4 linked regions of the Homo sapiens genome follow. The protein of the gene in region 4 interacts with the protein of the main gene of each other region in a pairwise test. Each region holds a gene or a part of one and is shown on either strand. Other genes may lie near its edges.

Evidence for each region.
Region 1: the proteins of PNP (region 4) and CAMK2A interact in binary tests that used the Homo sapiens proteins (3 or more experiments, as listed by UniProt).
Region 2: the proteins of PNP (region 4) and SORL1 interact in binary tests that used the Homo sapiens proteins (3 or more experiments, as listed by UniProt).
Region 3: the proteins of PNP (region 4) and PINK1 interact in binary tests that used the Homo sapiens proteins (3 or more experiments, as listed by UniProt).

The regions. Positions count from the first base shown.
Region 1 is NC_000005.10:150,218,977-150,223,798, forward strand, and holds the end of CAMK2A (calcium/calmodulin-dependent protein kinase type II subunit alpha), read right to left. Parts: intron 4,242-4,822; coding exon 4,013-4,241; coding exon of another isoform or gene 4,009-4,012; exon of another isoform or gene 3,984-4,008; intron 3,738-3,983; coding exon 3,734-3,737; 3' UTR 515-3,733; downstream 1-514. UniProt on the Homo sapiens protein: Calcium/calmodulin-dependent protein kinase that functions autonomously after Ca(2+)/calmodulin-binding and autophosphorylation, and is involved in various processes, such as synaptic plasticity, neurotransmitter release and long-term potentiation.
Region 2 is NC_000011.10:121,455,300-121,462,338, reverse strand, and holds part of SORL1 (sortilin-related receptor preproprotein), read right to left. Parts: intron 1-7,039. UniProt on the Homo sapiens protein: Sorting receptor that directs several proteins to their correct location within the cell. Along with AP-1 complex, involved Golgi apparatus - endosome sorting.
Region 3 is NC_000001.11:20,643,458-20,650,457, forward strand, and holds part of PINK1 (serine/threonine-protein kinase PINK1, mitochondrial precursor), read left to right. Parts: intron 1-1,032; coding exon 1,033-1,215; intron 1,216-2,102; coding exon 2,103-2,266; intron 2,267-4,857; exon of another isoform or gene 4,858-5,047; coding exon 5,048-5,175; exon of another isoform or gene 5,176-5,537; coding exon 5,538-5,774; exon of another isoform or gene 5,775-6,976; coding exon 6,977-7,000. UniProt on the Homo sapiens protein: Serine/threonine-protein kinase which acts as a sensor of mitochondrial damage and protects against mitochondrial dysfunction during cellular stress.
Region 4 is NC_000014.9:20,464,517-20,472,405, forward strand, and holds the start of PNP (purine nucleoside phosphorylase), read left to right. Parts: upstream 1-4,889; 5' UTR 4,890-5,008; coding exon 5,009-5,019; intron 5,020-7,791; coding exon 7,792-7,889. UniProt on the Homo sapiens protein: Catalyzes the phosphorolytic breakdown of the N-glycosidic bond in the beta-(deoxy)ribonucleoside molecules, with the formation of the corresponding free purine bases and pentose-1-phosphate.

The sequences.
Region 1 (4,822 bases), on a different chromosome or scaffold from region 4:
GACCAAAGTGTCCCAGGCACTAGGTCCAGACATATGTTTATGGGTAAAGAGACCCTTCCTCCCCTTCCCCATTCTTTAAAGCACTCTCTGGCATGGTGAGTCCTGAGCACTCATCTGTGAGGCTGGGCTGAGGGAAGAGAATGGGTGGGGGACTTGTGGAATAACCTCCACATTGTACAGGGAAACTGAGGCCCAGAGGAGAAGAACCTTGCCCCAGGGCCCAAGAGAGGCTTTAGCTCTTGGCTGCTCAGGCAACCCATAGCCACCCCTTTGCTCTTGTTGAGGGTACCCCCATGTGCCTGGGAGAAAGCTGACCCCATCCCTGGCTCTACAGGTGGGGCATGTGGTCCAGGCATAATCCCACAGTGACTGGCTCAGCCTTGAGCATGTGACCACAGTTGGTCCAATCAGAATGAAGACCAGGACTTTTATTTTGCCATGGGGCAGATCTGGAACTGGAAACTAACAAAAACCTCCCAGCTCAGGGGCTTGACCAAGACAGGGACACACAGAGTGCACAGAAGTTTGTAGCTATTTATTGCACTGAAAACACCAAGAATAAAACAAACGCCCCTTCTTCCCATCCCACCCGCCCCCCCCAATAGCAGAAAGTTTGAGCAGTGTTCATTCAAGTTCACAGCCACATATTTTTAAAAAAGAAAAGAAAAAAAAAAAGAACTAAAACAAAACCCCAAACAAATAGTAACAAAGAAACCAGCACGGGGAGTCTGGCAAACTCATCCCCCAAAAGGGTCTCCCTTTGAAGGGAGACAGGAGGCCTTGGGTCAGGATTCGCACCATGGTGGGCACAAACCCAGGAGAACACTTTCCTGTAAACGTGTTTTCATGCTGGAGCCAAGGTTTTGACTTGGGTTTGGATTTTTATTTATTTATTTATTATTATTATTATTATTATTTTGCATCTAAAGGATGTTTTGGAGGAGCACAGAGTTTGTCTGGTGAGGGTAGGCTCTGGGCAGATTTTTCTGTGAGTCTCCCCTGCCTGCCACATCAGGATCATCCCTGGTGCCCTGTGGTGGCACCAGGTGGCTGCCCACCCACAGGCGTGGCCTTCACAGTGGGGGCCATCTCAGCCTGGGGTAGCGATCTGCCTCCACTTCTCTGGCACTTGGAGAGTGACACAGTGGACAGGAGGTGTGTCAGCCAATGAAAGGCAGGACCTCAGGCTCCTCCAGCTCAGTTTCCTCTGGCAGGGAAACCAAGCTCCAAAGAGGGAAAGGAACTTGCCCAAGGTCACACAGCAAGTCTGGTCAGAGCTGGGAATTGAAGCCTACTCACCCCAAATCACTGCTCTTTCCCCTGCAGTCCACTGCTGAAAAGCAGTTGACAGGCACCGACGAGGGGAATCAGGGGCAGGTGGGGGAGGGGATGGAGCCTGACCAGGTCTAGAAGTAAACAGGAGTCCAGCCAGTGACTATCCCTGCCAGTTCCTGCAGGTAAATTAGGCTTCACATAGCCAGACGTTTGCTCCTTCATCGGCTGGATGGGAACAAAGAACCCTTTTAACCAATGAGGGAACTGAGGCTGAAGAAGAGCTCAGACCTTGCTCGGTAATTACAGCAGCCCCTGGTGAAGGCCACACCCTCACCCTTGACTGGGGATGGCTGTAGGGAACTGGCAGCTCAAAAGGGGACAGGTGGTTTTGCCCCTGGGATAATGGGATCACTGGGCCTTACTGGGAAGCCCTCTGGGCCTGGGGCAGGCCAAGAGCCTGCCCCTGGGCCTGGGCAGCAAGGTCTCTGCCAAGGACAGAGGCCAGTGATGGACCAGCTTGGAAACCAGGAGGCCTGGGCAGCATCTCTCCTGGCCTGCAGACCTGGCGTTGCCTGTCTCACCTGGGCCTGGGCAGCAGGACTTGAGAAAAGAACCCAGCAGACAGCTGGTGATTGGGGAGAGCTCAGAAAATCTCGGATCAAACATCCTCACCAGTTCTGCTCCAACCAACACCCAGGAGGGTCGAGGGTACCGGAGCCTCCTCCAATCCCTGGGGACGTGGCTCTTCCTCCCCTAAAATCCTCCAGAGGGGACAGTATCTCATGCTGGCAAAACACGGCCACACAGAGGCCAAAAGCACAGAGAGGCAGCAACATAATTCCGAGTCGGACACTGAGAATACAACCTCTATTTTTTTTTTTAGTCCAAAACATGTAGATTGGTTTTGTTGAGTGTTTTCTTCTTTTTGTTTGTTTTCAACATACTTACTGCGTATAAAGTCATGCAAAGAAAACAGTGCAGACAGTAGATCCTAGTGGATGTGCCAAGGTATTCCACTCAGAGTCAATCCCAGGGAAAGAGGGAAAGAGGAAAAGAAAGAGAGAATGCGAACCCGAGGCTGCAGGATGAGGCATGAAGAGTAGAAATTCCCAGTGCTTTGCTGTGGTCATCAGACGCCAAGGGGAGAGAGGCAATGAAGACACACGCTCACGGGCCCCCCAGAGGTGGGTGGGGGGTGCTGGGGGCGGCACACAGATATGGTGAGATGAAATCCTGGGAAGTTCGGTAGAGAAGACCCCAGTTTGCGAGGGAAGCAAAGAAAAGTCCAGGTATTTCCATCCTGACAGCCTCCCTCCTCCTCTCTGCCCTGACTTGCTGTTCCTGAGTCAGTGCTGGCATCTGATGCTTCCACAGTCCCAAAAGGAACGCCTGTGTCAGCTCACCTTGGGACCGAAATGGCAGAGAGGCCCTTCTCCCCGGAGCTGAGTCCACCTTGGCCCCAATAACCACAGGTGACAAGGTCCACCTCAGAGATGACAAAAAAAAAAAAAAAAACTAGAACAGAAAAAAACTACCCCTCACCCCTCTTCCTACACCCCTTCCAACCTGACCCTTCTCACAATAATCTGAGAAGTCTAGTTATTACATAAATATCCATTAACGCGAAATCCATTTACGAAATACACAGAAATTTGGCTATAAAAAGGCATGCGGTCCAAGTAGAAGTGATACCTAAACGTTGCTTTCTTTTGCCCCCCAAAAACAATTAGATTCCCTCTCTGAGATACGACAAAGCTGGAATTCTCCAGGGATGACGGGGGTGGGGTGGGCAGGTTAATGTTGGAGGTGGACTTCACCAGAAGGAAGCAGAAAGCAAGTAGGGGCACCTGAGAGGGCCACATCCCCCACACCGAGGGAAGGGTCAGACCACCCTGAGGTCAGCACAGGAGGAAGAAGACTTAGGGGAGCACTTTGAGGCAGGAGGCTCCTGGCGTATGCTCTTCTCCCCACTCCTTCAGTGCGGTTGGCTTAGGGGGAAGGGAGTGTCATCTGCCCTTCCCCGGGGACACTGGAAGAGGAGAGGTCTGGGAGAGGGACGGACGGATGCTGCCTTCCTCATCATGCCACCCCTCCTTCTCCCCAGCCCCTGGTGGGCACCAGCCCGGGCATTCTAGCCTACAGCCCAAGACAGATCAGGCGGACAGCAGCTGAGGCTGGGGAGAGGGGGCCAGTGCTGTGGACACCCATGCCTGAGGAAGCCCCAGCCTGGCAGGGGAGAGGGTGGGGGTGAGAGGTGGGGAGATGTGGCCGTTCGCTCTGAAGTTGCGATGACTTTTGTGAACAAGCAGGTTTTCTTGATGCAGGTACAGAAGTGACGGTGGTGGGGTGATGACATGGGAGAATTCCAGCAAAATCCACCTGGGAGAACCAGCAGCTCCACTCCACGGACAGAGTGGATCTCTGCGGCACAGCAACGCAGCGACCCCAGCCTGGTCCCTCAGCTGTAAGACACACACGGGGTGCTTCTCAGGGCATGGTGTTTCCTGCTTGGGCAACCCACCCACCCTGCCGCTTTAGATGGAGTCCATGCGGTCCCTGGTGGCTCCTGCCCAGCTCTTCCCCCAGACCTGCAGGCCTGGCCCCCTTCTTGGGGTCTCCCCACCCCACTCTGCAGCCTTTCAGAGCTGAAGGCAGCAGCTTCCCCGACGTAACCCCCTCCAGGGCAACACTCCCATCCTTTACATTACCCTGGGAGGCAGGAAGGAGGGATTCTTACTGGGGCAGGACGGAGGGCGCCCCAGATCTGTGGAAGTGGACGATCTGCCATTTGCCATCCCGGCGGTGCCAGACACGGGTCTCCTCCGACTGGGCGGTGCGTGGGATGCCGCCAGCGTCCAGGTACTGCGTGATGCGGATGTAGGCGATGCAGGCTGACTCGTCGCCCATCAGGTGGATGTGGGGATTCAGGATGGTGGTGTGCACGGGCTTGCTGTTCCGGGACCACACTGGAGGAGGGGATGGGAGGGGCAGAGGAGATGCAACCGGGGGCCTCCTGTCTCACTTTCTTCACTTTCTCCACTCCCAGCAGCCCTCTCAATGGAGGCGCCCTGCCTGACTCATTTGCAGGGAAGGGGCCTGTGTGGCAGGACTCAGCTACCTGGGATCAAGGTAGAACTTCTAGATGATGGGGACATCACATCCTAGTTTAGATACAGTGGAGTTCAGACATGCAGAATTCATCAAACATGAGAAAATGGAATGTTTGAATCATGACCGTTAGCCACATGGAATAAGCCTAGAGGATCATAGAACCAGAAGAGCTGTGAGCACAGTCTCAAATCCGGATCCCCCCAGGTACCAGGCAGGCACATAAACAACGGGGGCTGAGCTGGGTATAAGATGCTAAATGACAACTGACCCTTTGCCTCTGGGTCAGGGAGGCGATAGGGAGTGATGGGGACTGTGGCGAATAGAATGTCTTGTCCCACCTAAAGAGGGCATCCTGCACACAGCTTCCCTGGTGGTTGCCATGTGAGTGAGACCAGTGTTGACGTGCCTCGTTTTTCAAGAGAATCTGGAAATCTGA
Region 2 (7,039 bases), on a different chromosome or scaffold from region 4:
AAGGCAGGGCAGAGCAGAAGCCAGGAAGGAGAAGGGCCTTGAGACTTGCTGTGTTTGAAAAATTACAAGATCAGTGTGGCCAGGAGAAAGTGGAATTATGTGAGATCTCCAGGTTTTAAAGGTGGAGAAAAAAAAGTACTGCAAAAAAGCTGTGGATCCCTGCTTGAGATCAAAAATTTCACTAGATTACTTAGGATAGACAAATATGCCTGCATAAATCTGAAACAAGTTAGCGGGTTGGTTTGAGTCTTGTTCTCTCCGGTTTACCACCTGTCTAACTACGGGTAAGTCACTTCACCTTTTCAAGCTTCAAGATACTCATCTCTGAAATGAGATGAATAATCATTCTTATCTTCCCCATTTTTCAAGATTGTCGTAAGAATCAAATGAGATGCAGCCTGTGGATGTCATTTCATAAACTTCGACGCACTAAAACATCATTTCTTTTCATTACCAAATGCCTCTCAACCAAAATAAGCCATTCCTCACAAAACGGCTCCACATAGAACATTAACATTAGCGAAAGGCCTAAGAGCAAGCGATGACATATATAAAATGACAAAACACTGCACGCCTGAGTCAAGCTAGGAGCTCCTGCCTAACTGAAACTCACAGGCAGTTTTCTCCTTGATTCCCAGCCGAACTCTGAAACCTGGGGAAACCCAACCTCCAGGTCCCAAGGCTCCAGCCCAGAGGCGACACTGTTTTCTAGCACTTTCCTAACTCCAAGAGAAAAGCATGTAAACATTACATCCCAGAACCGAAGGCCTCTATACCCTACCAGTGGCTTCTTCACCACCCTGTGAGGGCAGCTATAAACAAGACTAATGGAGAAGGGGGAGTGCATTAAACCCATGGCTTGGCCAATTTCTCAGTAATAGGAGATGCCCTCTGGGCTACCAGGAGGTGAGGCAACAGGCGGACGTCCCACAGGCTCTGGTCTGCTAGCTAAACTCCCCCAGCTCTGTTTAGATAGCTCTTTCACCTCTAACCAACTTTCCACATCCACTGCTTCATTTTTCTCCTCTAGAGATTGAAGGCCTTGTTTCTGCAGTAACCGTCCCCCTCCAGCCCACCCATCACCACCACCACCAACAGCACACCTTGCCAAATTCAGCAAACCATGTGCACAGTTAACTGCAGATTTTTTTTTTTTTTAACCACTCAGTGAGAGAATTTCAGGGAACTAAATGTACACAGATGAGGTAAGTCATAGGTACAGAGTCTCAGGTTACTCAATTAATTGAGCACAGGTTCAAAGCATGCAAGTCCTTCCAAACACTTCTGGTTTCACAGGACACTCACCCCACTCTGCTCTGTCCCCACTCCCTGCCATCTCGGGCTCCTTGGCTGAGATCCTTGGGCAGATCAGCACTGGCCTTTCTCCCCAGGTCCCTGGGGCAGAGACAGGTGGAACTGTCTCGCATGTGTCTCCTGGGCTAATAGAGAAATGGGGTCCTTAACTATCTGGGACCTTAACCCTATAGCTTGCTATCTCACAGGTACCTATTAAAGTCTTCCCAGCCACAGTCCCCAAGCTAGCCTTTCTCCACAGGTGGCTCTTAACCCAGGGCCCTCCAGGCTCAACCAGATCATACCAGCCTTTCCAATGCCTCTGGGCACAGAGTTAAAAATTTCACCAAGGCCAGGCACGGTGGCTCACACCTGTAATCCCAGCATTTTGGGAGGCCAAGGTGGGTGAATCACGAGGTCAGGAGTTCGAGACCAGCCTGGCCAATATGGTGAAACCTCATCTCTACTAAAAATACAAAACAATTAGCCGGGCGTGGTGGTGCGCACCTGTAATCCCAGCTACTCAGGAGGCTGAGGCACAAGAATCGCCTGAACCTGGGAGGCAGAGGTTGCAGTGAGCCGAGATAGAGCCACTGCACTCCAGCTGGGTGACGGAGCGAGACTCTGTCTCAAAAAAAAAAAAAAAAAAAATTCATCATGACACTACACCTCAGCTCACCAGCCCCCCAAAGTCAGAAGGAAATCATCTCAGTATCCCTAAAATATTAAAATCCCAACTGAGGGCCCACCCATTGATTCACCCCCACATTTATTTCATGTAAGATTCACCCTAGTCATCTTCCCCCAGGGTTTCTACTCAACAGGCTAGTCTCTCTTCTAAATAATAGAGGTCACATCAGTTACCTTCTTCATTTAAAAAACCCCCAGAAAGGGGGGGAGATAATAAACAACATATTGGTCTCTACACGGCACAAATGCATTTGATATAGGTACATCTTTTTATTGTCCTTGTCAGCCACTCAGATTTGGGATATAATCACATCAGCCTGCCTTTCTGAGAATTCGTAGCTGTGTTTTGAATCTAATTCAGGGGACTGGAGATAAATCATTGTGAAGGGTCCTGATTTTCCAAGCTAAGAGCCTGCAGCAGCAGCAACAGCAATGGCAAGCTAAGTTAAAAGGTCAGCCAAGAAGTGGGGGAGGTTTATATGCAAAGATGAAGACCACACGCCTGTAGTGTTTGTCTTCATGCCAATCTGGAGGGTTGAAGGGAAGAAAGACAGACCCAGCTACATCAAGGTAAGTCAACAAAAGCACAGGAAGCAAAGGGCAGGGCAGGGAGATGGCCCCACTGTTAAGGCACTGTTTACATCTTTCATTGCTAAACAGAACGTGCAGGGTCTGCGCTCCACCTTAGCAAAGCCCGATACAAGTGCAGTGTTTGCGCAAGGCCAGATGAGAAGTGAAGCCACAGAGATCTGGTTCACCCTATGAATAGCCAGCCTTCATTGACTAAGTGACTGACAGAAGGAGGCAACTGTGCAGAGGCATGCCCTAGAGCCAACCACCGGACCCACTTGGCCCTCCACGGTCCCCCTGGTGAGTTCCTACCTAGGAAAGAAGGACCACTGTCTCCTGACACTCAACTTGGCAGTCAGCAGCCACCAATACCTAGGGTCTAGACCCAAGCCCTCCACTCTTGCTTTTATTGCCCTGTTTGCCCTGCCTACACGAGCAGGTCTTTGCAGGAACTTCTCTCTTGGGTGAAGCAGAGGTTGCCTACAGGTGGGAAGAAGAGGCCTTGTCAAAGCTTGTGCTGTCTACACAGTAGCCAAGAGCCACATGTGGCTATTTCAACTTTAAATTCGTTAAAATTAAATGAAAGACACTTCAAGTCTTCAGTCACACTTGCCACATTTCACCTGCTCAATGGCCAGATCTGACTAGTGAACATGGTGAACAGCACAGATAGAAAACATCACTATCACAGAAAGATCTATTGAACAGTGCCACATCGGAGGGTCCAGGACGCGGCCAGGAAGATAGGATCTTCCAGCTCTTGGCTAGTAGCAGTGCTATGGGCATGGATGTTACCATTATAATAAACAGTTACCCAGTGGATAACAGAACTTTGTAATTATTTTTTAACACACTAGTGTACTTGTGATCGTTACGCAGTCCTATTTTTACGGAACCCACCATAAAATGCACAAAGCATTGGTCATGTTACAGTTAAAAAAAACTGAGCATCTCACAATAACACAGGAGGAAACTCAAATCTTGATCTTGCTCAGCAGCCCACCCTGCCTTTTCTGGATTTTAGCTTCATCAGCCACTTCAGCGCTTGAAGGCCGCCCATGCCACTTCTTCGAAGGCCCAGGGTTCACAGGTCGATAAGCCAATAAATTAGGTCGAAATTAACTGTGGCTCATTTTAAATTGAGGGAAATTGATTTTTGCATGTACGTGGCTAGACTGACTATACCATCTGCCAACAGTGTCTGGCATACCTAGAAAATGCATAGGAAAGTCCCATGCTCATCAACAGAGAATGCCTCACCCCCACAGCCCAGACCACCTCTGGAGAAATACTAATCCCTGAATATTCAAACCAAAAATGCAGTGAGCTCTCTTTTACTTTCCATCACATTTATTTAAATCCAAATAAATGGAGGAAAGGTCAATGTAATGCCCCCAGGTTTTAATACATTTTTATTCATTTAAAACATTTAATACATTTTTATCAACTCTCAATTATCTGCATCTGAATTATTGTCGCAAATTCTAAACTCCAAACTGCCTTTCCCTGAATACATTTAGGCCAGCCATTTCCCTTATCAATAGATCAAAGAATGCAAACTCATTTTAATATTCACCTGAGCAAAACTTAATTAGGAAGGTAAACGAATGCTTTAAAAAAAAGACTACATAAATACATAGCAAAAGCAAATCGATTATTTTTTGGATTACCTGCTCTCCAGATTATGATAAGACTGCCCCCTGTGTCCCTCCATTACAGTGGGTGGAACAAAGCTGGCTCCAACTATCTCTGCCCTGGGATTCAACAATGACACTATGAAGATGGCTGTCATCTCTAAGGAGGAACAGACCAAAATCTGACAATGAAATGTTCCTACAACATCCACCTTTTGCCTTGGGATGTTCGTTGCTATAAGGATCTGCCTCGTGGATCCCAAGTCTCAAAGCAATTTATTAAGCATACCATTAACTTCATTTTACAGAACATAGAGAAAACATTCTCAGACAGAACACAAATTAAAACCAAGATCCATGATCACTGTATTCTGATGCTCTTACAAGCCTGGACTCCACATCTCAAGGGAACTGTGCTCCAGCATCTCTCCAAGTTACAAGGGGGCTACATCAGGCTGCTCTCCTGCTCTGCAAGAACGCTTGAAGTGAAAGGAGAATGAGGTTTTTCTCACCTGGCCTGGAAAAAAAGTAATCATCTATTTTATATTATGATACTTCAGGTAATTTTCTAACAATTCACCATCATAATATCACAAATATAATTTAGAGCTAAAGTTAATCTCATTATTCAGGATACCAGGGACTACAGGTAACAGGAAGCCATTTATAATTCAAGTTTCCAATTTTATGTACATACATGTTGTACATGCATAGACTGTTTCTGGAAAGATATACAAAAATATTGATAACAACGGATGCCACCCGGAAAGGAGCTCTGGGTGAACAGGGGGCATGAGAGGGAAGGAAATTTGTTACCACATACGCTTTTGTACAAATTTTGTTTTGTAAACGTGCATTACCTAATCAGACAGCTTTTTATTTCATCCCTCCAAATTCCGCCTCCTTACTCTTCTCACCAACCCCTTTCCTCCATTCCTTCCCCCTCGCAAAGCCTCCACCTTCTGTGCCTCTAACCATGCAAGCTATTTATGAACTAAAAGCGGCCAGAGACTGGGCACAGAGCTCCCTAAGAAAAGACGCCAAGTGGAACCAGGAAGAGCTTTTCAAGGTCACGTCCCTTATTGAGCCAACCCAAGGCCCCGAGCAACTCTTCAGCTACATAAAAGCCAACCTGAAGCAGCACATTCTTTGCCTTCTCATCTTATTCTGGAAGCACACAGGTCAAACATCCTAACTTCAGAATCAACCAGCCAATTCTTTCCCAAGCAAGTGTATCATGGAAGAATCTACTCAAAAGAGATCTAAAGCTGAACGGTATTCCACCCCCAAAGGAGGCCTTTTGTCCCAGGGCCTTGTGCTGTAATAGACACTTTATTTTCAGTCTCAAATCAGGACACTGAATACTCCCTGGCTTCTAAAATGTAGGAATTATGAAGAGAGAGCTTGTTGGAAGGAAAATAAACCTGTAAATCCTGTTAGGCTTTGTGCTTTATTCCAAAGGATTTTTCCCCAAAACAATACCATTAGCATAAACCAGAATGATAGCCCTAAAAGGGAGGATTCTGTAAAATAGAATCCAAGCTCTTCATTGAAAATAACTCCCATATAGCACAGGCAAATCAGGGCTCCACTATCTGTAGGCCATGCCGCTTGCATCCTCACTACCGAATGAGCCATCTCATTTTCACTATCCATGTGTGGGTTCACTGTATTCCTCCTTACAAATACATTTTATATAATGTGAATGTGCTTCCTACCCTCTGGGCCTCTCTTCTTCCAGGTGTGTGGCTGGTCCACAAATACTCATTAAGGGCCTCCCAAGTGCCAGGGAAACACAAGAGAACTTGATCCATGCCCTCAAGGAGCAAACAGGAAGATGAGACAGTTGAGCAATTCTAACACAAGGCAGTAAGTGCTGCCTCCAAGCTCAGAAGAAACTCTTCCCACCATAGCCTGAGAATACCAAGAGGTATTCCTTGGATGTTAAAGAATGGAATAAGAGCTTCCCAGGCAAGGACAAGAGTTGGGGAAGATCATTTCAGGCAGAGGAAAAAGCAGGTATGATGGCGCAGACAGACAGAGCTTATGAGAAATCAGGAGGAAATTCAGTGTGGCATGAATTAGGGAATCCCTCTTCTTGGACCTGGCCTTTAAGAAGGGGCTCAACTTCTAAACTTTGCCTTTTTTTTTTTTTTTTTTAGATGGAGTCTCACTCTGTCCCCCAGGCTGGAGTGCAATGGCGCGATCTCGGCTCACTGCAACCTCCGCCTCCGGGGTTCAAGCGATTCTCCTGCCTCAGCCTCTTGAGTAGCCAGGACTACAGGCATCTGCCACCACGCCCAGTGAATTTTTGTAGTTTTAGTAGAGACGGGGTTTCCCCATGTGGACCAGGCTGGTTTCGAACTCCTGACCTCAAGTGATCCACCCGCCTCGGCCTCCCACAGTGCTGGGATTACAGGCGTGAGCCTTGAACATGGGCAGAAAAGTCCTGATATCTGCCAGCAAATTATTTTCACCCCTACAATCACATTTCAGTATCATAAATGTGCCTTTAAGTAATCATGGCAGAAGCCGGTCTCCCCACCTTAGAGAAACTGAGGAGGAAAATGGTCAAAATAACCAAGCCTAGTTTACCCAAGACATTAGCGAAGCAGAGGAAAAAGGACCGACATTGACTCCAGCACAGGGCTCTTTCTCAGATGCAAGTATTCCCCTAGAAAGCCTTCCCTTCTCTTCTCCCTGAAGGTGGTGGCCTTAACATCGCCTCTAGGCCTGCTTCCTTCAGGCAGCTTCTGCTTCCAGCCCTAACCTGTGCTGCCAGTGTCCTCTTAACCTCACTCAAAGGTCAGAGGGCAAGAAGCTGGACAGTGTCTGAGCCCACCACCCCTTAT
Region 3 (7,000 bases), on a different chromosome or scaffold from region 4:
TCTATGCCAACTACTGTACTAGACTTGGAATAATGGAGAAAATTCAGGCACAGTCCTTGCTCTTAGGGAGCTCACATGATTACTCATTGATGAATATCTCTCTCCCCTGATAGACTGCAAATCCATGAGGACAGGGACTCTGTCTTGTTCTGTGCCATAGTTCCACAGCATTCCAGCATGATGTCTGGTACTCAGCATGCAAACAGTGCGTATTGGTTGAATGAATAATAGTACAGCTAATAGCAGCTGAGAGCTTCCTCTGTGCTAGACACGATTCTAGGTGCCTTCCACACTTTGACAACCTTATGCAGCGTGTTAACACTGCATTCCCCTTGCACCCTGGAGATTGAGCCCAGAGAAGATAAGGACAGAGGGGACACATTCCAAGATAGATCCCCCAGTGGATGCCTGAAGCCACAGATAGTAACAAACCCTATATATACTGTGTTTTTTCCTATACACACATACCTATGGTAAAGTTTAATTTATAAATTAGGCACAGTAAAAAATTAAAGATAACTAATAAAATAGAATAATTATGACAATATACTGTAATAAAAGTTATGTGAATGTGGTCTCTCTCTCTCTCCTCTCTCTAAATATCTTCTTGTACTCACCTATTCTCAAACTGTAGATAACTGAAATTGCAGAAAGCAAAACTGTGGATAAGGTTGGGGCTACTGCAACTCAGCCAAGGACTTACAGTGGCAGACCTGGAATGCAAACCCAGGCAGTCTGATACCAGGGTTTCTCCACCTGTGTTCTGCCACATGGGATGGATAGGATGGATGGGTGTACGGATGGACGGACGGACAGACGGATGGACAAATGGATTGAAGGATGGGTAGGGGAGTCATCAGATGTGTTCTCCAACACCATGTACAGTACCTGGCACATAGCAAATCTATGATAAACATTTGATAGTAAGTGAATAATGAATGTCAGTGCCAGTGTTGGTGTGGCCTTAGGTTATTCTTTCCAGGTGTTGTATCTGATGCTGGCCTCATATGTTTGTCTCACTTGGCTGACTAGAAAATCCAAGAGAGGTCCCAAGCAACTAGCCCCTCACCCCAACATCATCCGGGTTCTCCGCGCCTTCACCTCTTCCGTGCCGCTGCTGCCAGGGGCCCTGGTCGACTACCCTGATGTGCTGCCCTCACGCCTCCACCCTGAAGGCCTGGGCCATGGCCGGACGCTGTTCCTCGTTATGAAGAAGTAAGTGACAGCAGCGCGGCAGGGCCTGGAGCTGATACATCTCCCAAGGGGAGCTGGTTCCTGCCCTCCATGTGCACCTTGATCAGGGGGTTTTGGAGAACAGGGTCATCACCCTTCCGGAGAAGAAAGCCATGCAAAGGGAACATATCTGCCCTGGAGAGCATTTTCCCTGTAGGACGATTTTTCATGGAAACAAACTCTCATCTTCATCCAGAACATACTTGTCACCTAGTCCTTTTGGTCCATTTGACTGTTAACCTTTTCTGTGGCTGGACTTATCTGTTTTTAACATAAAAACCGTTCTCCTTCCTCACCCTCTGTATCCCCTAACTTTGCTATAGTGGGTATTTTATTTTAAGGAAATAATTATCTGCACCATTACTTTGAATATAGGGAGCCCCAACTCTTACTTCCTAATTTGAGGATGGTGAGTGGGAGGGAACAGAAAGGATGCTGGGGAAAAGTGGGAATCAAAGTGCTCCTGGAAGGGGAAGAGGAACGGCCTAACCCTAACAGTGATTAAGGTTATTAGGAGGCCGGGAATGGTGGCTGACGCCTGTAATCCCAGCACTTTGGAAGGCGGAGGTGGGTAGATCACTTGAGGTCAGGAGTTTGAGACCAGCCTGGCCAACATGATGAAACCCTGTATCTACTAAACATACAAAAATTAGCCTGGTGTGGTGGCGGGCACCTATAATCCCAGCTACTCGGGAGGCTGAGGTAGGAGAATTGCTTGAACCTGGAAGGTGGAGGTTGCAGTGAGCCAAGATCGTGCTACTGCACTCCAGCTTGGCGACAGAGTGAGACTCCATCTCAAAAAAAAAAAAAAAAACGTATTGGGAGTCGTCGATGTGTGGTAGCCAGAGGCCCTCTCCCCTCTCCGCCAGCTATCCCTGTACCCTGCGCCAGTACCTTTGTGTGAACACACCCAGCCCCCGCCTCGCCGCCATGATGCTGCTGCAGCTGCTGGAAGGCGTGGACCATCTGGTTCAACAGGGCATCGCGCACAGAGACCTGAAATCCGACAACATCCTTGTGGAGCTGGACCCAGGTAGGAACCTGCTGCACCATCAGAGCTCTCCAGGGGCACTAGAGGGTGGGTCAGGAGCATTTAGGACTGACTCTTCAGGTCCTCTCTGGTTTTGTGTTCTAAGTCATGTCTTTATTTAGCTCCGCACACAAGAGGTTAGCAATCTCTCCCTTAGAACGGGGTTTTTTTTTCTCTCTTTGCAGAGAGACAGCACTTCCCAAGTTCCTTTCTCTAGCCCACTTAAAGAACAAGGACCTCAGTGCTGCAAGTTTTCCTAGGTAAATAAAGAGGCCCGGCACAGTGGCTGACACCTGTAATCCCAACACTTTGGGAGGCTTGCTTGAGGATTGCTTGAGGCCAGCAGTTTGAGACCAGCCTGGGAAACAGAGTGAGATCCCTTCTCTACAAAAAAAAAATATGTTTTAAATTAGCCGGAAAAAAAGTTAGCCAGGCATGGTGGCATGCACCTGTAGCCCCAGCTACTTGGGAGGCTGAGGTCGGAGGATCACTTGAGCCTAGGAGTTAAGAGTCTGCAATGAGCTATGAATGTGCCACTGTACTCCAGCCTGGGCAGCAGAGTGAGATCCTATCTCAAAAAAATAATAAAAAATAATAAAGTAAAAGAGAAGTAGACTTTAGCTCATTATAAAAAATAACTTTCGGCCGGGGGTAGTGGCTCACGCCTGTAATCCCAGCACTTTGAGAGGCTGAGGCGGGCAGATCATGAGGTCAAGAGATCGAGACCATCCTGGCCAACATGGTGAAACCCCATCTCTACTAAAAATACAAAAATTAGCTGGGCATGGTGGCGGGCGCCTGTAATCTCAGCTACTTGGGAAGCTGAGGCAGGAGAATTGCTTGAACCCGGGAGGCGGAGGTTGTAGTGAGCCGAGATTGTGCCACTGCATTCCAGCCTGGCGACAGAGTGAGAGTCCATCTCAAAATAAATTAATTAATTAATTAAATTTTTCAAACAATGAAAGCTGTCCAAATGTAAGCCCAGTTGCCTCTGGAAATGAGTTGCCTACCACTGGAAGCATTCAAGTAGAAGCTGAATGGCCACTTGCCTAGGAAAATTGTAAGGAGATTCATACATCTGATAAATTTTTGAACTAGAAGATTTAAAATAATTGACTAGAGGAACTGGCTTTTATTATTTCTTTATTTATTTACTTATTTATTTATTTATTTATTTGAGACAGAATCTTGCTTTGTTGCCCAGGCTGGAGTGCAGTGGCGCCATCTCAGCTCACTGCAACCTCTGCTTCCCAGGTTCAAGCAATTCTCGTGCCTCCGCCTCCTGAGTAGCTAGGATTACAGGCAGGTGCCACCACGCCTAGCTAATTTTTGATTTTTTTTTTTTTTTTTTTTTGAGACTGAGTCTCGCTCTGTCACCCAGGCTGGAGTGCAATGGCATGATCTCGGCTCACTGCAAGCTCTACCTCCCAGGTTCACACCATTCTCCTGCTTCAGCCTCCCGAGTAGCTGGGACTACAGGCGCCCACCACCACGCCCGGCTAATTTTTTTGTATTTTTAGTACAGACGGGGTTTCACCATGTTAGCCAGGATGGTCTCTATCTCCTGACTTCGTGATCCACCTGCTTCGGCCTCCCAAAGCGCTGGGATTATTATTTTTAGTGGAGATGGGGTTTCACTGTTGGCCAGGCTGGTCTCAAACTCCTGGCCTCAAGTGATCCACCCACCTCAGCCTCCAAAATGTTGGGATTACAGGTATGAGCCACCACGCCCAGCTGGGAGTTGGCTTTTTTTTTTTTTTTTTTTTTTGAGACGGAGTCTCACTCTGTCGCCCAGGCTGGAGTGCAGTGGCATGATCTTGGCTCACTGCAACCCCTGCCTATCGGGTTCAAGCAATTCTCCCGCCTCAGCCTCCTGAGTAGCTGGGATTACAGGCACACGCCACTACACCTGGCTGATTTTTGTATTTTTAGTAGAGACGGGGTTTCACCATGTTGGTCAGGCTGATCTGGAACTCCTGACTTCGTGATCCGCCTGCCTCGGCCTCCCAAAGTTCTGGGATTACAGGCGTGAGCCACTGCGCCCAGCCAGGAACTGGCTTTTTAAAGGAATTTTGTGTGGACCCTTTTACAAATAACCAATTCTTTTTTTATTTTTTCTGAGACAGAGTCTCGCTGTGTTGCTCAGGCTGAAGTGATTCTCCTGTCTCAGCCTCCTTCACCTCCCAGGTTCAAGTAATTCTCCTGTCTCAGCCTCCCGAGTAGCTGGGATACAGGCACACACCACCATGCCTGGCTAGTTTTTTTGTATTTTTAGTAGAGACAGGGGTTTCACCATGTTGGCCAGGCTGGTCTTGAACTCCTGACCTCAGGTGATCTACCCGCCTCGGCCTCCCAAAATGTTGGCATTACAGGCCACCACACCCGGCAATAACTGATTCTTAATGCACCTGGTTCTTAGGTTTGGATTTGGGGTTTCAAATTCAAATCAAAGTCTCCTGGGGTATAAGGGCCCTTGGAGATCATTTGAACCAAGCTCTAGCTCCTTTGGTCTTGGGGACAGCTCCAATTACTAGAACATGATTTAAATTGAGCCACACAGTCCTTTGCCTGGGGATTTTGCAGCCTGTACTTACTGGAGGCATTTCCGTGTTCGCACAGCAGGCCCTTCTGATCAGCTCTCAGGCCTTGCTGACCTCCTGGGCCAACACTGAGCCATTAGCCCCTGTCAGCTATGTCTTGCTGGTGGCTTTAGTAGGGACATAGGAGGGCCTCTCAGAGGGAAGGAGGGGAGGAGAAATGGTCACTTTGCTTGCTCCTTCCCAGACGGCTGCCCCTGGCTGGTGATCGCAGATTTTGGCTGCTGCCTGGCTGATGAGAGCATCGGCCTGCAGTTGCCCTTCAGCAGCTGGTACGTGGATCGGGGCGGAAACGGCTGTCTGATGGCCCCAGAGGTGAGTCCCGAGTGTGTCATGCGCCATCGGCAGCCCTTCCCCCACATGTCCACTGAATGCAGGAGACTCGATGCCTTGTGATAACCCAACACCTCCATCTTTTCTGACCCATAATTTGGCACAAGTTCCTTCCCTGCCACTTTGCTTTCCTCCGGCGTTCCCTCATGTTCCAGGAGAATGCAAGTCCTGTCACATAAACCAGGTGGTCTAAGCAGACCCCTTCTGGGTCTGAGCCACAGCTCACTCAAGCTCTGGGTTCCTTGGGACAGAGTTCAGATTAGCCCATGGATCAGGTGATGTGCAGGACATGAAAAGGTTAGATGGGCGGGCAGCGTGATGTCTCACCCACTGCTTCTGAGCAGGTGTCCACGGCCCGTCCTGGCCCCAGGGCAGTGATTGACTACAGCAAGGCTGATGCCTGGGCAGTGGGAGCCATCGCCTATGAAATCTTCGGGCTTGTCAATCCCTTCTACGGCCAGGGCAAGGCCCACCTTGAAAGCCGCAGCTACCAAGAGGCTCAGCTACCTGCACTGCCCGAGTCAGTGCCTCCAGACGTGAGACAGTTGGTGAGGGCACTGCTCCAGCGAGAGGCCAGCAAGGTGAGGCTGTCCCCGGCTTCGAGGGGACGGTGTGGGTAGAAACCTCTGTTCTCGTTCCAGAGTGAAGGTCAGGTTTGGGCCAGAGCCACAGTGACAGATCCTCTGTGTTAGGAAGGTAAAGGCTAGTTACAAGAGAACAAAAAACAGATTTTAATGTAGGTAGGAGTAGGAGCACTAGCCACCACAGCATAGTCAGAATCCTAGCAGTTCAACTCCTGTGGCTTTTTTAGTTGCTGAAAAAGTTGTTCAGAGGCCAGACACGGTGGCTTACACCTATAATCACAGCACTTTGGGAGGCTGAGGCGGGTGGATCACTTGGGACCAGGAGTTCCAGTCCAGCCTGGCCAACATGGTAAAACCCCGTCTGTACTAAAAATACAAAAATTAGCTGAGTGTCGTGGCACACGCCTGTAATTCCAGGTACTCGGGAGGCTGAAGCAGGAGAATCGTTTGAACCCTGGAGGCAGAGGTTGCAGTGAGCCAAGATCGCGCCACTGCACTCTGGCCTAGGTGACAGTGCAAGTCTTTGTCTCAAAAAAAAAAAAAAAAAAAAAAGGCTATTCAGAGAGAGAAAAGGAGGCATTTTTGAGAAATGTTTAATGGAGATGTAGCTCATGGAAGCAGCTGAGAACTGATCAGAGAGAGATGGAAAACATCTCCTGAGAGCAGATCTGGACATTGTGAAATTAATATAAAGGAATGCAAAGGCAGACCTATCCGAAGCCATAATTGGAGTGGCAGCTGGCTCAGGGGCAGGCTTAGTGCAAAGAGCTGAGCCATACCTGCACCCCAGCACTGTTCTGCCACTCCGTTAACTGCTCTCTGTACGTGGCCTGCTATCTTGGTGCGCAGTGAAGGTTAGAACAACAGCTGCAACCAGTTATGAAATGATAGAGGAGACTACTTACCTGGTTCAAGGGACCAGATAGCTGTGCACAAGAGGCACTAGGCTTTCCACCCAGGGGGAAAGGCTATTTCAACAATGCATGCTGCCCCATGCAGAGGTGTACACATGGAAAAGCTTGGAGCACGGGCAGGGGACAGGCAGTATTTGTCACCTGAGTGAAGGGCATCAGTAGGAGATAGGGTAGAGGAAGAATTGGGTTGGGACCAGAGAAGGGAAGACCCTCACTAACAAAGCAGGCTTTGGGTTGAGACTGTGTTAACAGATGTTCTAGCTACAGCTTCCCTTCCTGTTGCAGAGACCATCTGCCCGAGTAGCCGCA
Region 4 (7,889 bases):
CCTATGGGGTGGGATCTTCTCACTTAGATTGAGAACAGTTAGGCTATTGAGGTGTATTAATTTGCTAGGACATAAAAAACACTATAGATAGCATAAACGACAAACATTTATTTTCTCACAGCTCTGGAGTCTGGAAGCCCAAGATCAAGATATTGGCAGGTTTGCTTTCTCCTGAGGCTTCTCTCCTTAGCTTACAGATGGCCACCTTCTCACTGTGGCATAAATGGCCTTTTCTCTACACACATTTTTGCTTTCTCTTCCTCTTTCTCTTCTTTTTCCGTGCTTTTAGAGACAGGGTCTCACTCTGTCACCCAGGCAGGAGTGCAGTGGTGCAGTCATAGTCTGTGGCGGCCTTGAACTCCTGGGCACAAGCAGTCCTGCCACCTCAGTCTCCCAAGTAGCTGGGATGACAGGTGCATGCCACCATGCCTAGCTAATATTTTAATTTTTTGTAGAGACAGGGTCTCACTATGTTGCCCAGGCTGGTCATTGGTCTCTAACTCCTGGGCTCAAGTGATCCTCTTGCTTTGGTGTCCAAATGCTGGGATTACAGGTGAGCACCACCCTGCCTGGCCTCTCTTCTTCTTATGAGAACAACAGTCTTATTGGATTGTGGCCCCACCATTATGACCTCATTTAAACTTAATTACCTTTTTAAAGGACTTATCTCCAAATATAGTCACAATGAGGATTAGAGCGTCAATATAAGAATTTGGGGGAACACACTTCATTGTGTTATATAATAGAATAGATTTCAAAGCATTTTTTTCTTTAGATTTCCAACAAAGTGATAACTAGTACAGTGTGTACATGGCCAGAGGATGGGGTGGAAAACATCTGCTTGGCTTCTATGACCCAAAGTGTCCCAATCTGATTTCTTTTTTTTCACATATTCCACATGCCCTATTTCTTTTTTCCTCTTTCCTGAAGTGGTAATTTACCACCTGTGTGAAAACAACACAATCCCTTACTGCATTTCAAAGGCACAGAAAGTTTCTGGTAATGTGCAGAGTGAGTTAACTAAGACGAGGGGTAGTTTGCCGGGGGTTGGGTGGGATTGGGTAGGGTGTGACCTGGTTTTAAAGAATTAATTTACGTTAATTACATTGGGACTTTGCTCCCTTGTGCTCCTTGCTCTTCCTGGGCCTCAGTTCTTTGCTCTTTCCTTTAGGGAATTCCTGGCTTCCCTTTCTAGGAGCCAAGGTCTTTGGAATAGAGGGTGGTAGGCCAGTCCTTTATCTCTGCTCTGTTCTTCCTGCCACTGAGTGAGGCACAGATGGAAGTCTCACTCTTAGAAAAGAGAAATAAAAGTGATCCCTATAACAGAAAGAGAAGGGCTGGATGTGCTGGTTCATGCCCATAATCCCAGTACTTTGGGAGGCTGAGGTGGGAGGATCACTTGAGCCCAGGAGTTTGAGACCAGCCTGGGCAACATGAAGATACCCCATCTCTAAAAAAATAAAAATAAAAAATAGGCGAATGCGGTGGTGCGTGCCTGTAGTCCTAGCTACTTGGGAGGCAGAGGAAAGAGGATCGCTTGAGCCTAGGAGATTGAGGCTGCAGTGAGCTGAGATTGAGCCACTACACTCCAGCCTGGGTGGCAGAGCGAGACCCTATCTAAAAACAAACAAACAAACAACAACAAAAAAAAAACAGGGAAAAACCCTAAAATGTTTTAATTTCAGTAATTGGAGAAAATGGAAGACCAAAGATTATGGTGATAAGGGGAGTAGATATTTTATTTTATTTTTTGAGATAGGGTCTCACTCTGTCACTCAGACTGGAGTGCAGTGGCTCCATCACAGCTCACTGCAGCCTTGACTTCCTGGGCTCAGGTGATTCTCCTGCCTCAGCCTCCCTAGTAGCTGGGACCACAGATGCCACCACACCTGGCTAATTTTTGTATTTTTTGTAGAGATGAGACTTCACCATGTTGCTCAGGCTGGTCTCAAACTCCTGGGCTCAAGTAATCCTCCTGTCTTGGCTTCCCAAAGTGCTGGGATTACAGGTCTGAGGCACTGTGCCTGGCCAGGGATAGATATTTTTAAAACCGCATATTTAGCTTGTGATCTAGAGAGAATAAGAGATCTCAGTTGAGAGGGCAGGAATAAAATACGTTCCACAAGGCAATACTGAGTGACTTAGAACCTATTCCTGCCACTTTTTTTTAGTTTCCTTGATCTTGCGGGTGGAGGGTAAGTGTGTTACTAAGTATGTTCCTGGACAAGGAGTCCCTCTGAAGATAGAAGTGATGAGAAGATAGAAGAAAAGGTAATAAGGCATTAATGAACTCTAATCACACTAAGATTGATGATCGTCTGGTTCCTGTCTATAGGAATGCTACAGGAACTCTTTTACCCTAAAAGTAAATAATAAAGCACAGTTCCAGTTTCTTTTATGTGGATACAAGGTGGCAGTGACTAGAAAAGATAAGAACAGTGCTGTGCTCTAGCATAAAAACGTAATTATGCTATGCAATATGGTAGCCACTAACCACATGTGACTATCGAGAAGTTACAATGTAATTAGTATGATTAGGTAACTGAATTATTTTTATTATATTTCATCTTAATTAATTTTATTACTTTTAAATAGCCACACATGGCTAGTGCCTTCTGTTTTGAACAGTGTGGGATTCATTGGTATTGATAGGCTGGATATACCTCTAGTTTTTATTTTGATTCAATTTATGGTTAGGTGAGTCTAGAAAGAACAAAAGAGAAAGAGACAATGGAGATTAATCATAATAGCCAGCATTTAATGTGTGCTTATTATATATCCAGGCATTTACCTAAACATGTAAAAGGTATTCTGTATAATCCTTGCAAAAATACTAAGATTATTGCTATTTTACAGATGAAAAAATTGAAGCATAATAAGAATTTTACTTGCCTAGAATCACACGAGTAAATAAGGGGTGAAGATGGCATTCATACACAGGTAGTTTTATTAGAGCCCATTCATTTACACTACATAGATTCAGGAATGAGGTGGCATGGAGTGACTGGGGCCATGGTTCCCAAACTGTGCCAAAGTACAAGCTCACAAGGGTATTGTGGAATATTTTTAATTTTCAGAGGAAACACAGCAATATTTTATATTTCTTAAACACTGTGTGACCTATTAACTTGAGGTGATTCACAGTTGGAACATTAGATTGTGCTACATTCCTTTTGATGACAATATATCTGGCCAGGTGTGGTAGCTCATGCCTATACTCTCAGCACTTTGAGAGGCCGAGGTGGGCAGATCAGTTGAAGTCAGGAGTTCAAGGCCAGCTTGGCCAATATGGCAAAACCCCGTCTCTACTAAAAATACAAAAATTAGCCAGGCATGGTGGCAGGCACCTGTAATCCCAGCTACTCGGGAGGCTGAGGCAAAAGAATGGCTCAAACCCAGGCAGCAGAGATTGCAGTGAGGCAAGATCGTGCTACTGTACTCCAGCCTGGGTTACAGAGTGAAACCCTGTCTCAAAAATATATATATATATAAAGACAACATATCTTTACAAAAGATGGTTTTAGAAGGTCCCTCTGATAAAAATTAAGTATTAAGTAAAAAAAAAAAGTACTGTGTAAAAATCAGCATGGAACAGAAAATGAGGGTGGCAGCATTGGATTCCTGCATGTGAGAAGTTGAGTAGTGCCAAACAGATGTACATATCCCGTAAGTAACTGTTTGTGGTTATTTAAGAACGAAATTTTTTTTTCAATTTGTGTGCATTGTTATTTTCAAAGTGCTAGTAAGTTCTCAGGAACCAGCTACTCACTCTGTTGCCCAGGCTGGAGTGCAATGGTGTGATCTCAGGTCACTGCAACCTCCACCTCCCGGGTTCAAGCCATTCTCCCTGCCTCAGCCTCCCAAGTAGCTGGGATTACAGGCGCCTGCCACCACGCCCAGCTAATTTTTTGTATTTTTAGTACAGATGGGGTTTTGCCTTGTTGGCCAGGCTGGTCTCCGACACCTGACCTCAGGTGATCCACCCACCTCGGCCTCCCAAAGTGCTGGGATTACCGGCGTGAGCCACCGCGCCTGGCCTTTATATATAAATTTTTTTTTAATTTTTTAAATTAAAAATTAAATGTAAATTTAATGTAAAAATGTAAATTAAATGTAAAAATTAAATTGTAAATGTGGGCAGAAGTAATAGTTGTATTCTACCAAAGACACGCTATTTATGTTATATTCTGGTACCCGTGTATTCCGATAACAGAATTTTCTTCGTGGGAGGAGTCCTCTAGTTACCTGAATTGCTTGGATCAATATTGCGCAGATCAAGGGATTATCTGTGTCCCTACCCACCAAATCCATCCTTATCCTTTCTGTCGGCATCTAGGACCCCGGAATTCTTGCCTGAGAACTTTTTCTTCTCCCGGTCTGGGCCTGGATGTGCTCTCCTAAACCCTGTATCCTCCAAGTTAGCACTGTTGCCGGGGGCGACCCAGCTTCCCTTGTCCAGGGAGCAACTCAGACACAGTCTCGCTTCATTTTTATTCTGGGGTTGTACAATCTAAGGTATGAAATTTTTCCTTTTTGAATCTCTCACGGTTTGCTATTGACACAGCTGGAATGAGGTTGCAAGGAGAGGGCTGGGGGCTCTCCTCCCTACTTCTAGCCCTATTTCCGCATAGGCCTTCTTGCTGGGAACTCCTGCCCTGCGGACTGGAATGGGTACCGAGATGAAATGCTGGGTGCGCTCCGGCTCCCCCCGCCCGCCCCGGGGCAGAAGGTTTAGGGCTGGGAAGAACTCTGATTAGGTTTACAGCCCAGGTTCAGCCGATTGAATTAGGGTGTGTCACCATGGAGACAGGGCCGGCCCGCGTGCTCGCTTGCCATTGGCTGGGGACTCCAGGGCAAGGGATATAAGCCAGAGCCTAGACCAGTGAGCCAACTGTGCGAACCAGACCCGGCAGCCTTGCTCAGTTCAGCATAGCGGAGCGGATCCGATCGGATCGGAGCGGATCGGAGCACACCGGAGCAGGCTCATCGAGAAGGCGTCTGCGAGACCATGGAGAACGGGTGAGGAGGGCACCAGGCCCGCAGGACCCTTGGGGAGGGGCAGGTGCTGTGACCCGGGAACCTGGCACACTGGGCCCAGAGGGAGCTGGCGGAGGGAGCGAGCGCCCAGGGGATGCAGAGAGGCCTGGCACTGAGCCTAGTGTCGGGAGCAAGGCGGCAGAGTCATGCGGCAGCCAGCGCGGGCAGGGACGCACGCGGGAATCGAGCTGGGGTGGCGCCACCGGAGCAGGAAGGGGACAGGTCGGTGCGGTCTAAGCTACTCCGTAAAAGCAGCCGTTGTGTGTCTCCGTGTGTGTGTTAGGGGAACAAGTGGAGAGTGAGTATATGTATATATCCCTCACTCCATACCAGGAGGAGGTCTCCTCACCCCCTGCGCTCTTCATAAATTCCCATGCTAGGGTCTGGGTAAAGCTGCGAGGTACTTTTGGTGCTCAAATTCGGAGTTCCTCCTTTAGAGGCAAGATTACTCACCTCCTTTGCCAGTTGCACTCCTCCCTTCCTTCCAGACTGGCAGTATGATTAACTCGGTGGGAAGTGACTGCTAAGTGGAGACGGAAATCAGTCACCGAACTGAGCAACAGTCCTGTGCTCACTTCCCCCACCCCACGCCTTTGAAAACTCTTCTCTCGGCTTGGGTCCTGGATATCCCAGTCCAAGTGACCTGCATTAGGCATCACAGTTGCTTTTGGATGCCCAGGGAGCCAGGGTGTTCTTGAGGGGACTGATAGCCAATGAGGAAGTGCTGTGAGATGTGGCTAGACATGCCATGTGGCGGCAGCTTCACACATTCATTTCCTTTGCACCTTTTGGGGATGCCATTTGATTAACATTTTACCAGCTTAATTGCTTCTCTCCATTGTCCTGTGGCTCCGTTGACCAGCCCCCAACCTACCTGATCCAACTGCTTCCCTGAGGGTAGCCTGGTGTATTGTGCAATCATGTCTGGTTTCCCGGGCTCTGCTTTCCAAGTAAAAAATTTCCTGTGAAAGCTTGGTTAGTTGTGTTCAGCTCTGTCACACCTCATTGCCACCTCTGAAAGCAACGTTTGGTCTTCCCAGATGGATGTGAGAGAACTGGACTTGGAACTGGGAGAAAAGTAACACGGGTTGATTCTTGCTAGTGTAGGGGTTCTGGGTAAGTGCCCTGAGGTTTCTGAAGAGCAAAGATCCTCGGTGGAGAGAAAGGAAACTGGGAGGAGGCAGGGAGGGGGAAGGACAGGAAGAAGACCACAGGCAGGTGGAAAGCAGGAGAAAGATTCAAATACTTTGTGTAACAGAGCCATAGGTCTTTGGAAGTTGTTAGCAAGTATTCAATTCATTTTCAGATTGAGCCTATAAGATAGATGGGGCCAATTTACATCCCTTGTTTATACCTGAGAAAATAATTTAAAGCACAAATTACATGCCTAAAAAGACAATATTGGGACTAGAATCTAGGTCGAATTCTGCTTCCCTCCAGACCAGCAATTCCTAAACCTGGTTTTATTTTATTTTATTTTTATTTATTTATTTTGGAGTCGGAGTCTCGCTCTGTCTCCCAGGCTGGAGTTCAGTGGAGCGATCTTGGCTCACTGCAACCTCTGCCTCCCGGGTTCACACCATTCTACTGCCTCAGCCTCCCGTGTAGCTAGGACTACAGGGGCCCGCCACCACGCCCGGCTAATTTTTTTTTTTTTTTTTTTTTTTTTGTATTTTTAGTAGAGACGGGGTTTCAACATGTTAGCCAGGATGGTCTCGATCTCCTGACCTCGTGATCCGCCCACCTCGGCCTCCCAAAGTGCTGGGGTTACAGGCATGAGCCACCGCGCCCAGCCCCTAAACCTGGTTTTAAAATCAAAATTACATGGGCTTCAGAATCTGTTTTTTGTGGGGGTTTTGTGTGTGTGTGTGTGTGTGTTTTTTATAGGGTCTCACTCTGTCACCAGGCTGGAGTGCCAGAATCTGTTTTTCTAACAAGCTTCTGCTGAGAATTTGTGTAGTCAGTCCTGGTTTAACCTTTGACAACCAGTACTGTGGACTGGGTCTGCTTTTTTGTACAGCAGTTTATCTAGTTTTTTGTCTGGAATTAACCCCCTTGTGATCCAGGGAGCTAAGAATGGCACGTAGACCTCTACCAGGGGTGGTCCCATTGTGTTTTATTGGTTAAAACAAAAAAGAAATGTAGCCCTTAAGTCTTTGGCTGAGGAAGGAACTGGAGGAATGAGGGTTCAAAAGGAAATTTGAGTTTATCTCTGCCTTCATAGTAGTTGGTCTTAATTACATTTTGAATGTCTTTGGGGAACAGGTAAGGTAATAAGGGGGATTTTACTAGGTGGGCACCACCCTCAGGAAGGGCTTAATCCCATTTTGAGTACTCTTCTTGGGCTCCCTCCTGGCCAAGCCCTTTTACCCTCCCTAATTTGATTATTTCCTTGCACTTCCCCGTACACTCTGGCCCCTTCCTCTCTAAACCTTTGTCATAAGGATAAGTATGCAGCTTGCCAGTGTTCAGTGGATCCAACACTGGAGTTGGGCCTGTTAGTAGAAACAGGCTTTATTAACTTTTGCCAGGCTCTAGAATGGAGGTAGTTTCATATCAGACTTGTAGTGGGCTTGATTCAGAAAGAAGGGTGGCTGAGTAGATGGAAGAGCATAGTATGGCCTTTCCCTCTGTGCCAGCTTCTCCGTCCCTGCTGCCTCAGTATACCTGCCAGCCTTTTTGCACCGAAGGTCATTTGTCTGTGATGCCCTTGGAATGGGAGCAGAATTCACCTTGATATTTTTTCTCCCCCAGATACACCTATGAAGATTATAAGAACACTGCAGAATGGCTTCTGTCTCACACTAAGCACCGACCTCAAGTTGCAATAATCTGTGGTTCTGGATTAGGAG